Linked DNA regions of Homo sapiens. The protein of the gene in region 1 interacts with the protein of each later gene in a pairwise test. Each region holds a gene or a part of one and is shown in the gene's direction. Other genes may lie near its edges. The genes, in order: THRA, CD160 and CEP76.

Region 1 (3,751 bases):
GGACCCTGCTGAGTTGGGTCCACTGCAGGGCTCACAATGGCCTTTCTCCACACCCCTGGCAGCTGAGGCCCACCTCAGAGATGCCCAACAGCTGTGTCCTTTTTGCCCAGCCTCAGGGCCTGGTTCTGAGGGCACAGCTGCCTAGACTAAGTATGTACTAAGCGAGGCCCTCCCACCCGTGAGTGCAGGTTCCAGCCTAGAAGGGGTACCTCTTCTGGAGAGGGAATTTGAGGAGGGGGAACTCAGGCAGGAGACATCGAGCCCGGGGGCACCAAGCACTTCTCGCTATGCTCCCCTCTAGCCTTGGACTATTTGGAGGTGGAGGCACTTGGCAGAGAACCCACAGGGCAGCTACAGAGGGGAAAGACTGAGGCTTGGTCTCAGGGAACACATAGCTGGATGAAAGAACAAGGCATTGGGCCGGGCACAGTGGCTCACACCCGTAATCCTAGCACACTGGGAGGCGGAGGCAGGCAGATCACCTGAGGTCAGGAGTTCAAGACCAGTCTGACCAAGATGGTGAAACCCCATCTCTACTAAAAATACAAAACTTAGCTGGGTGTGGTGGCGGGGTCCTGTAATCCCAGCTACTCAGGAGGCTGAGGCAGGAGAATCGCTTGAACCCAGGAGGTGGAGGTTGCAGTGAGCTGAGATTGTACCACTGCACTACAGACTGGGTGACAGAGCGAGACTCCGTCTCAAAAAAAAAAAAAAAAAAAAAGAAAAACAAAAAAGAACAAGGCATTATCTATCAAGCAGGTGATATACCATCACAGCTAAGAACAGAGATGATGGTGATGATCATGACGGCCATGATTGACCTGGACTGCCTAGGTCTGAATCCCAGCTCTGTCACTTGCTGGATGTGTGACTTTGAGCAAGCGATTTAACTTCCCCGTTGCCTCATCTGTAAATTGGGGATGATCATATCTACCTCATTTAGCTTTTTTGAGGAAAAATGTTTTTAAAAGTGCCTAGTTCATAACAAACTGTATATGTGAGCGGTTGTGATGGGTGAAGGAAGCTGTGGGCCTGGGGTCTCCCAGATTTCTTAGAGAAGCTTCGTGGAGAATTGGGTCTCCTAGACATCAGTGAGACTGGGGCCTGGGGCAGTGGGTCTCCAATTTCCAGCCTTCTCACCGTCATGTAATCTTTTCCTCCCAGACAAATTTTTGCAGCCTGGAATGAGTGTATGGGAAAGAGCCCAAGGCAGGCCCCTCTGCCCCACCCTCCTTTGACCCTCGCCCTTCAGCTTACAAGGAGCCCTTGGCCCCTCAGCCTGGGACACACCCCACCAGCTAGGGGCACCTGCATAAATCTTTGGGCATCACTGCATCTCTGTTCAGGGTCTGAGCTCTGGGGGTGGGAGAGAGAGAACAAGGAAAGCCGTCCCCTCTCTTATGTGTGGGCTCAAAGAGGAGGCAGTGCCCTTCCTCCCTCCTGGGAGCCCAGCATTGGTCAACCAGGACCCAGCTCTGGCTGATAGGCACCAGATTCCCCTGCCCTCCATGGAGTGGTACTTAGTGTGAAAGGTGGTGGCAGAGAGAAACTGAAGCACTGAGTAATGACCAGTGTGGTGGGCACAGCACTTTGAGATCCAGCATCTGTCCTGGGTTGCCTCTTTGCCTTTGTGAGTCTGGTGATCAGGATCCCCTCTCCAAACCCCTTTTATTTAGCCCTGCCCCTCAAGGTGAAGGAAGGACAATGGGAGGATACCCTGTAGGGGTGACGGGAAGCCTTTGGAGTGGGAACCAATCTCAACTCTAGTTCTCGGCTGGGCACAGTGGCTCATGCCTGTAATCTCAATATTTTGGGAGGCCAAGGCGGGAGGATCACTTGAGGCCAGTAGTTCATGATCAGCCTGGTCAACATAGTGAGACCCCATCTCTAAAAACAACTTTAAAAAGTTAGCCAGGTGTGGTGGCGCATGCCTGTGTTACCAGCTACTTGGGAGGCTGAGGCCGGAGGATCGCTTAAGCCTGGAAGGTCGAGGCTGCGGTGAGCTGTGATTGTGCCACTGCACTCTAGCCTGAACAACAGAGTGAGACCCCCCACACACACATCCTCTCAAAACAGACAGAAAACAAAACAAAAAACCCAACTCTAGTTCTCATGGCTGCAAAGGTGTCTAGGGGACTTTGGAGAACTGTTGTGTCTCTTGGGGAGGGAGGCAAGCATGACCGTGGTGGGAAGATCACTGGCTGGGAGTTGGGAGGCCTGGCTGTTGACATTCACTAGTCGTATGACTTTGGGCCTGGGTTTTCATTATCTAGAGACAATGGTTCCTGTCTCACTCAGGTTGAGGGCAAATAACACAAGGTGGGATGACCCCTGTGTTCAATCCATGTTGCATCCTGGCATGGTGAGCAATGCCTGTGGATTCTCCTTTTTTCCCAGGGCCTGGCACATGCCAGGGTGGGGCATACACATGCTGCCTGGAACCAGAGACAGTTCTCAGTCTCTCACTGAAGTATCTGGGGCTGGTGTGTGGTGGGGGCACATGTGGTTCCACCTTGGTGTCACTTGGCAGGCCAAAGCTGGGGTCATAGGGACCTCCCTCCGGTATGCCATTGCGTGAGGTGGTCCAGAGGGAGGGTCAGAAGTTTGCTGGGTAGACAAGGGAAGCAAGATGGGTGTTACTGGTGCCCAGGAAATACTATCCTTGCTTCGCTGTTTTGGGGGTGGGCATTAAAGGTTGATACCAAAGCCTCAGCCATGCCCCTCAGCAGTGGCCAAGAGCAGAATGATTGGACCAAGCCCCTGGCCCACCTCCTCCTCCTCCTCTTTTCCTCTTCTAAAGAAGAGATCGGCTCTTGGCTCCCAGAGCCCCAGCTGCCTGTTTCTTTTTCTCTTTTACCAGGCATGGGGGTGGGGAAACAGGGGAACCGAGGCTTTGGTGTCTTTCGGCATTTTTGTACACATCAGTGAGTGGGTGTGTTGTGCACGCATCCATGTGAGAGTGTTTTTGTGCATGTGTGGGCTGGGGAGGGCTCTGAATATCTCCTGGAACGGTACCCAGAGCCCTGTGGCTCTGCGCATGCGGGGTGAGTGTGTGTGTCTGCACGTGTCCGTGTGTGTGCCGGAGACTCAGCTGCATTCACGCGCGCGCTCTCTCCCTCCCTCTCTCCCTCCCTCTCTCTCTCCCTCCCTCCCTTCCTCTTCCCTCTCCCTCTCTCTCTCCCCCTCCCCCTCTCTGTCTCTCCCTCCTTCTCTCCCTCCCTCTCTCTCTCTCACACACACACTCTCAATCTTTCTCTCTTCCCTCCCCCTTCCTCCCTCCTTCCTATTCCCTCCCTCCTCCCTTTCTGTCCCTGTCTCTCTGTCTCTGTCTCTGTCTCTCTCTCTCTGCCTCTGCCAGTTCTGCTTGGTTAGGGGCTAGCTCCAGCCTCTGGGGTGCCTGGGAGAACATCCCTCCCTTTCTTTCCCCCTCCACCATTCCCTCCCCTCCTAGGCCATGCTCTTCAGGGCTTGCAGGCAACTTCTTCTACTGCCTTAGATGAGGGAGTGAGGAGGGAGGACCCCAAGCCTTGTGCCCATGGTGCCATCTGCAGCAAGTGCCTTGGCCCCGTGACATTCATGCCTCCAGCATTCAGCTGCCCCAGCTCCCAGCTCCAATTACCCGCTGGCTGCTGGGGGAGGGTGGGGAGAATGTGCCGTGCCCAGCTTGGGGGTGCTCCTGCTTCTGCTTTCTTGGCTACTTGGATCTCCTGCCTCCATTCCTGAGGGGAATTGGGCAGGGGGGGCGTGAAGT
Region 2 (3,751 bases), on another chromosome or scaffold:
GAGTGGGGGAGGGGGCTGGCAGCCTCAGCATCTGCCGGATGAGTTTTCAGCAGAGAGCTGGATTTAACCGAGGTTGGGGTTTTGCGAGGATCCATCACAGTAGGAGTAAAGCTAAGGGAGCTGAGGGTGGATATAAGGGAGAGATTATAATAATGGACTACAAAATATAAACTACAGAAGGAAGTGAAGTTTGAGGAGAGTGAGGGGCAGTACAAAGTTGGCAGGGCCAATGCATTGCAAAATTAGGTCAGAGACACCCATCGAGCCAAAACATCCTGGGTTAACCCAACTATTTTCTCCACTTCTGTATCCAGGTTACAGATTACTTACAGGGAAAATCAAGTGGGCAGACTGGCACCATCAGAGTCATGGTCTTTGGATATCAATGGTCCCTCAATAATTAGTCTGTTTCTCCAGTCCATTCTCACTCCATTTCCACACAGTGGCTGTTTTTAATCATCTCTGGTATTTCTGTGGTCTCTCTCATCCTATATTTCTTAGAAAAACTTTTACTCATCCTTCAAGTCAGCTCCAGCACTAACTTCACTGTGAAGTTTCCCTGATGCTTCAGACTCAGGAATCTCTAAGATTCCTCAATTATAATAACTGTGGAATTAAATTGTAACTTTTTGCTAATTTGTTTTTACATTAGGCTTTAAACTCTGAGAGTGGCCAGGCACAGTGGTTCATGCCTGTAATCCCAGCAGTTTGGGAGGCAGAGGCAGGAGGGTTGCTTGATGCCTAGAGTTCAAGACTAGCCTGGACAACATAGTGAGAATCTGTCTCTACAAAATAAAAAATTAGCCAGGCATAGTGGTGCATACCTGTAGTGTTAGCTATTCGGAAGGCGGAAGCAGGAGGATTGCTTGAGCCCAGGAGTTCAAAGGTGCAGTGAGTTACGATTGTGCCACTGCCCTCCAGCCTGGGTGACACAGCAAGACCTTGTTTTAAAAAAAAATTTTTTAAATTAAAAATCCCCGGTCATCTAATGGTTAGGGGAAAAAAAAGTTCTGACAGTAGGGCTCACGTCCTAGTCCTCATAGCCCCAGCAGGGCTTGGCAGAGTGAATACCTAAACGTATTTGTTAAGTGGAGGAACAAATAAACCTATGAATTAATGGATGCTTTGAGCATATTATTTAGTCCCTTAATTTTCATTTTCCAGATGAATAAACTACTGCCCAAGGAGTTAGGTAACTTGCTTACAGTCACACAGCCATCGATAGAGCTGGAATTTGTATTTCCTGTCTGCCAGCACTACTGCCAGGTTCTGCTTCAGTCCTTCCTTGAAGACTTCTAGTGATAAGGAGCAGTTACGGTGAAATTCACAGAATGCTACCTGACCTCTGGGTAATTCTTCCCTTTCCATTCCAGGATGCATTAACATCACCAGCTCAGCTTCCCAGGAAGGAACGCGACTAAACTTAATCTGTACTGTATGGCATAAGAAAGAAGAGGCTGAGGGGTTTGTAGTGTTTTTGTGCAAGGACAGGTCTGGAGACTGTTCTCCTGAGACCAGTTTAAAACAGCTGAGACTTAAAAGGGATCCTGGGATAGATGGTGTTGGTGAAATATCATCTCAGTTGATGTTCACCATAAGCCAAGTCACACCGTTGCACAGTGGGACCTACCAGTGTTGTGCCAGAAGCCAGAAGTCAGGTATCCGCCTTCAGGGCCATTTTTTCTCCATTCTATTCACAGGTGAGTGCTCAAATACTCCTAATGCCACCAGGTGGGACAGTGAGCAGGGTTGACAGTGGAGATGTAACCAGATAGTTCAGGTCCTGGAAAGGCAGTTTCCTTCTTCCTCAATCCTTTTCCAACATCCCCATTGGCAGATGCTGCCTTTCTTCAAAGCGCACACACAAACATAATCTCATTTTGTCTTTAATTTTAGAACTCTTACTTGGGGTGGCCATTGCATTTTTACTGACAGGGAGATGGTGACACAGGGGTTGAAGAGACTTGTCCAGTGCTACTCACTGGTGAAAGTAAAAACAGATAGAAATTAGGCTTCCTGGCCAGGCATGGTGGCTCATGCCTGTAATCCCAGCATTTTGGGAGGCTGAGGTAGGCAGATCACCCGAGGTCAGGAGTTAAAGATCAGCCTAGCCAACATGGAGAAACCCTGTCTCTACTAAAAATACAAAATTAGCCGGGTGTGGTGGCGCATGCCTGTAATCCCAGCTACTCAGGAGGCTAAGGCAAGAGAATCGCTTGAACCTGGGAGGCGGAGGTTGCAGTGAGCCGAGATTGTGCCATTGCACTCTATCTTGGGCAACTAGAGCGAAACTGTGTCTCAAAAAAATAAAAAACAAGAAAAGAAAAGAAAGAAATTAGGCCTCCTGATTCCCAATTCAGAACTCTCCCAGAAATGTGGCTATATTTCTAAATTCAGGCAGACAACGAGATTAGGTTTGAGATAATATGGGTGTCTGTCTTAAGGAGCATTTAGTTGGAGGAAACAGAAACCAATTCAAAGTACCATAGATTAAAGGAGGAAAAAATAAAAAAGTACAGCTGGCCCTCATGAGTTCTAGCTCCTGGAATCAGAAACTAGAAAGGGGACAGGACGCAAAACAGTTACCGTTTCAAACTGTGAGGCAGCAAGGCCTCTGGCTTCTGCATCTGTCTTTCACTCTATGCATGCTCCCCCTGCTCCATTACTACTTTGGCATATCCTAAATATGGCCACTCCAGCCCCAGCTTTAAGTGGCTTCCTTAAGTCAAATTGTGCCCAACAGAAAGTGTCTCTCTGTGTAACTATATTCCTAGACAATAGAGCAAGCCTTCAAAATTCTGTGGGAAAAAAAAAATTTACCTAGAATTATATATTCAGCCAAACTATAAACCAAATGTAAGGAAAGAAAAAAGACACTATCATGAGATGCAATGACTCAAAAAAATTTGCCTTCCATGTGATCTTTTCAAAGAAGCTACCAGAGGATGTGCTTCAGTAAAACAAGAAAGTGAATCCATAAAGGGGATAAAATGACATACAGGAAACAAGGAGTCTAACAAGGAAGTTCTAGGCTGGACACAGTGGCTCATGCCAGCACTTTTGGAGGCCAAGGTGGGAGGATCACTTGAGCCCAGGAGTTAGAGATAAGCCTGGGCAACACAGGGAGACACCATCTCTAGTGGAAAAGAAAAAAAAAAGGAAATTCAAGAATTAAAAAAGGGCAGTTAGTCCAGAAGAGAGCAAGAGAAAGACGACTCTGGAAGGGAGATCTCTAGGAGGTAAAAATGGAATCGACATATCATCTTTCTAAAGGCCCATTAAAGACCCAATAAAAAGATTAAAGAAATGGATATGGAAAACTCTGCCAGTAAAAAAATAAAATCAGGCTCTAGAAAAAACTAAATTTTACAAAAGAAACATAGCGCACAACTTGATTTTGCAAAAAATAACACAGAATCCAAATTATGTAAACATGACTAATTTAAATAAAATTTGTGGTACAATTATTTTTAGAAGAATGCAGAGAAGGAAAATGGGTGAAAGTATAATCCTCATCTACTATATTCTAGCACATCTTCATCTACTGTAGCAGAAAGCCAATAGAAAATGTCTAAATTTTATCACTAGGAAGCAGCAATATGAGCATATTATTTAGGAATATAATAAGACATCTCGAAGAGTTGACAGTGGTTGTCTCAGACAATAAGCCTAGGAGGACAAAAGGGCACTGCTATTATTCTCTATGAACTTTTACAACTATCTTACTTCTCCATGAACTTACAACTATCTT
Region 3 (3,751 bases), on another chromosome or scaffold:
TGCTAGACACTGTTCTAGACACTGGAGATGTAGCTGTGTATAGGGCAGCAGACAGCTAGACAGCTTGCTCTCAAGGAGTTTAGATTCTAGTGCAGGAGAAACAATAAGTCAGCAAACAAAATAATCAGATAGTAGAAGGTGTTTTATGGAGAATTATTACAGGTGATATGATACAGTGGTTATTGGGTGGCTAATTATAGGTCGAGTGACTAAGGTAGGGAAAGAGTCTGAACAACAGGAAGTAACCAGCCATGCAAAGATTGGGGCTGAGCTTCCAGCACTGGGAACAGCCTAGAACAAAAGCCCCTATGGAGGACCGAAAGCCCTGTGTGGCTAGAGCGTAGTGGGTTGGGGAGAGAGGAGAAAATGAGATAGTCGGGCCAGAGTTCATAGGCCAGGGCAGGTATTTTGCAATGTGATGGAGAATGAAGTGTTTTAACAAGAGAATGACAGTATGTTTTTTTTTTTTTTGAGATAGAGTCTCACTCTATCGCCCAGGGTGGAGCACGGTGGCATGAACTCGGCTCACTGCAACCTCTGCCTCCCGGGTTCAAGCAATTCTCCTGCCTCAGCCTCCCGAGTAGCTGGGATTACAGGCATGTACCACCATCCCCAGCTAGTTTTTGTATTTTTAGTTGAGATGGGGTTTCACCATGTTGGCCAGGCTGGTCTCGAACCCCTGACCTCAAATGATCCACCTGCCTTGGCCTCCCAAAATGTTGTGATTACAGGCGTGAGCCACCATGCCCGGCTTGTATGATTTACTATTTAAAAATTTCTGGGCCAGGCGCGGTAATCCCAGCACTTTGGGAGGCCAAGGCGGGCGGATCATGAGCTCAGGAGTTCAAGACTAGCTTGACCAATGTGGTGAAACCCTGTCTCTACTAAAAATACAAAAAAAAATTTAGCTGAGTGTGGTGGCACGTGCCTGTAGTCCCAGCTACTCAGGAGGCTGAGGCAGGAGAATTGCTTGAACATGGGAGGCAGAGGTTGCAGTGAGCTGAGATCTTGCCACTGCACTCCAGCCTGGGCGACAGAGCAAGACTGCATCCTCCACAACCAAAAAAAAAAAAAAAATTCTGTCTTTGAGGAAAAAAAGGTGACTTATGATTATTGTATGGAGATGGGATTGTACTAGGGGTAAGTGTAGAAATAGGGAAGTCAGGAGGCTCTTATAGAAGATGATGATGACTCAGATTAGGGTGGTAATGATGTAGAGAAGTAGATAAATTTGCTACATATTTTGTAGTAATTAAAGATAATGAATAGAAATTGAAAAATATTTTTTTCAATTTCAAGCTTGCTTTGGAACGTCAGAAAACTGCAGAGAAAGAGCGATTATTTCTTGTATATGCTAAGCAGTGGTGGAGAGAATATTTGCAAATTCGACCCTCACACAACTCACGACTGGTTAAGATTTTTGCACAGGTTTGTAAATTATATTAGAATAATTTTATGCCTGTATTTGAGATTTACTGTTATGTGTGTAAATTTCATTTAATATTTATTTGTAAAATGTATTCCAAAAAATAAAAGTGTATTTGTAAAATAAAATGCTGATTTTGTAATATTCTCTTTCACTGCATAGTGAGTGGCAAGATCAATCTATGTCTTATTTTACTTTCAATTTCAGTTATTGTGGGTTTTTGAAAAATCACCTTTCTCAGGTTGAATCAATTATTGTGTTTTAAACCCTTTCTGAATATATTTGATTTAAAGTAGATGAAAATCCATTTTGTTTAACTTGGAATGTGTATTTGCTTGATACTTAGTGCTAAATAATTAACCATTTGGACACTTTGCAGGTTATATGTAAATCCAGCTCTTGTGTGCAGAACGGGGGGGGGCTCTGGGCATATATATATTTTTTGTTAGGGTTTTAAAAAAAATTGTATATAACCACGACTTCTAAGCCAGTGACCAGTAATGTTTAACTGAAGCATTTCAACTATATATCTCTGCCTCCATTTTTCCTGAGTCCTAAACCCATTTTCTCTCTTTAACAGACCAATATAAAATATATGGTCAGGTCAGCTAGGCGCGGTGGCTCACGCCTGTAATCCCAGCACTTGGGGAGGCCGAGGTGGGTGGATCAAGAGGTCAGGAGATCGAGACCATCCTGGCTAACACGGTGAAACCCCGTTTCTACTAAAAACACAAAAAATTAGCCGGGCGTGATGGCGGGCTCCTATAGTCGCAGCTACTCGGGAGGCTGAGGCAGGAGAATGGCGTGAACCCGGGAGGCGGAGCTTGCAGTGAGCCGAGATCGCACCACTGCAGTCCGGCCTGGGCAACACAGCAAGACTCCGTCTCAAAAAAAAAAACAACAAAAAATGTGGTCAGGTTCACGTATTTTTTGTAACTCCTAAGGAACAGTTCAAATATTTTGTATATATTCAGCCTCATACAGATGCTTTCATATAAGTATAGTGTAGTATATTATTTTAAGTTAAGTTTCTCAAATCCTGTACATTCATCCAGCTTTACCCTACTTTCCCTAGATTTTGGAACAGGCTAAAAGTGGTTTAGTGTCCAGATGGGGAGCTTGGGAATGAGAGGTTGACTAGAGGTGGGAATAAGGGAAATGGCTTCTGACTTTCTGATAGCGTTGTTTATATATTGAATGACTGGTTGGCAAGGTAACAACATTATCAGGACAAAGGCAAGGAGAAACCAATCAAAATGTAACTGGCTTCCTGGCCGGGCGCGGTGGCTCACGCCTGTAATCCCAGCACTTGGGGAGGCCGAGGCAGGTGGATCCTCTGAGGTCAGGGGTTTGAGACCAGCCTGGCCAACATGGCGAAACCTTGTCTCTACTAAAAATACAAAAATTAGCCAGGCTTGGTGGCAGGCACCTATAATCCCAGTTAGTCAGGAGGCTGAGGCAGGAGAATTGCTTAACCCGGGAGGCGGAGGTTGCAGTGAGCGAAGATCACGCCATTGCACTCCAGCCTGGGCAACAGAGTGAGACTCTGTCTCAAAACAATAACAACGACAAAAAATATACATATATATATATATAAACTGGCTCCCTGCTGTCTATATAGTCTGAGGCATTTATTCATTGCCACGTGGAATTAGGAACTAGAGAGGACTCAGGATGGAGTGAGGCAGTGAATCAGAGAAATGGCAGGATCAAAGAGGAGGAAGAAGTTGAAATGCACTAAGGAAGTCAAGGAAGTGGGATTTTCTTTTAGGAAATATTACTTAAACGACTTCCTCTCTCAGAATTCATTTTAAGATTTGAACCATAGAACGTAATTTAGTCTCATAGTAACCATATAAGATTGTCAAGTGGCCAGGCATTGGCTCTTTTTGTAAACAGTATGAAGGTTAGAGAAGTGAACAGTCTTTTCAAGGCCAAACAGCAACTCAGTCATGGCAAAGTCTGTGTCAAATTGGAGTTTCAACTGGTGCCTTTTTGGTTTATGCCACCTCTTTCCATATACATAGAGTAAATAAAATGCTGATTTAATTTAGATTCCTCAGAACTGTTTCTTGCTGCTTCCTGTATTTGACTAGTTCTGAAATTAAACAACAACAGTGTAAAACAGTCAATCTAATTATAAAAACAATAGTTATAAATCAAAACGTTAATATACATATCCAGGCCAAAAAAATTTCTAATGTATCCAGCACTGAAAGTAAAGTAAAGAACTTTTTTTTGTTGTTGTTGTGAGACAGAGTCTCAGTCACCCAGGGTTGAGTGCAGTGGTGCGATCTTGGCTCACTGCAACCTCCACCTCCCAGA

Evidence for each region.
Region 2: the proteins of THRA (region 1) and CD160 interact in binary tests that used the Homo sapiens proteins (3 or more experiments, as listed by UniProt).
Region 3: the proteins of THRA (region 1) and CEP76 interact in binary tests that used the Homo sapiens proteins (3 or more experiments, as listed by UniProt).

The regions. Positions count from the first base shown.
Region 1 is NC_000017.11:40,065,964-40,069,714, forward strand, and holds part of THRA (thyroid hormone receptor alpha), read left to right. Parts: intron 1-3,751.
Region 2 is NC_000001.11:145,729,371-145,733,121, forward strand, and holds part of CD160 (CD160 antigen precursor), read left to right. Parts: intron 1-1,373; coding exon 1,374-1,700; intron 1,701-3,751.
Region 3 is NC_000018.10:12,689,036-12,692,786, reverse strand, and holds part of CEP76 (centrosomal protein of 76 kDa), read left to right. Parts: intron 1-1,299; coding exon 1,300-1,428; intron 1,429-3,751. UniProt on the Homo sapiens protein: Centrosomal protein involved in regulation of centriole duplication. Required to limit centriole duplication to once per cell cycle by preventing centriole reduplication.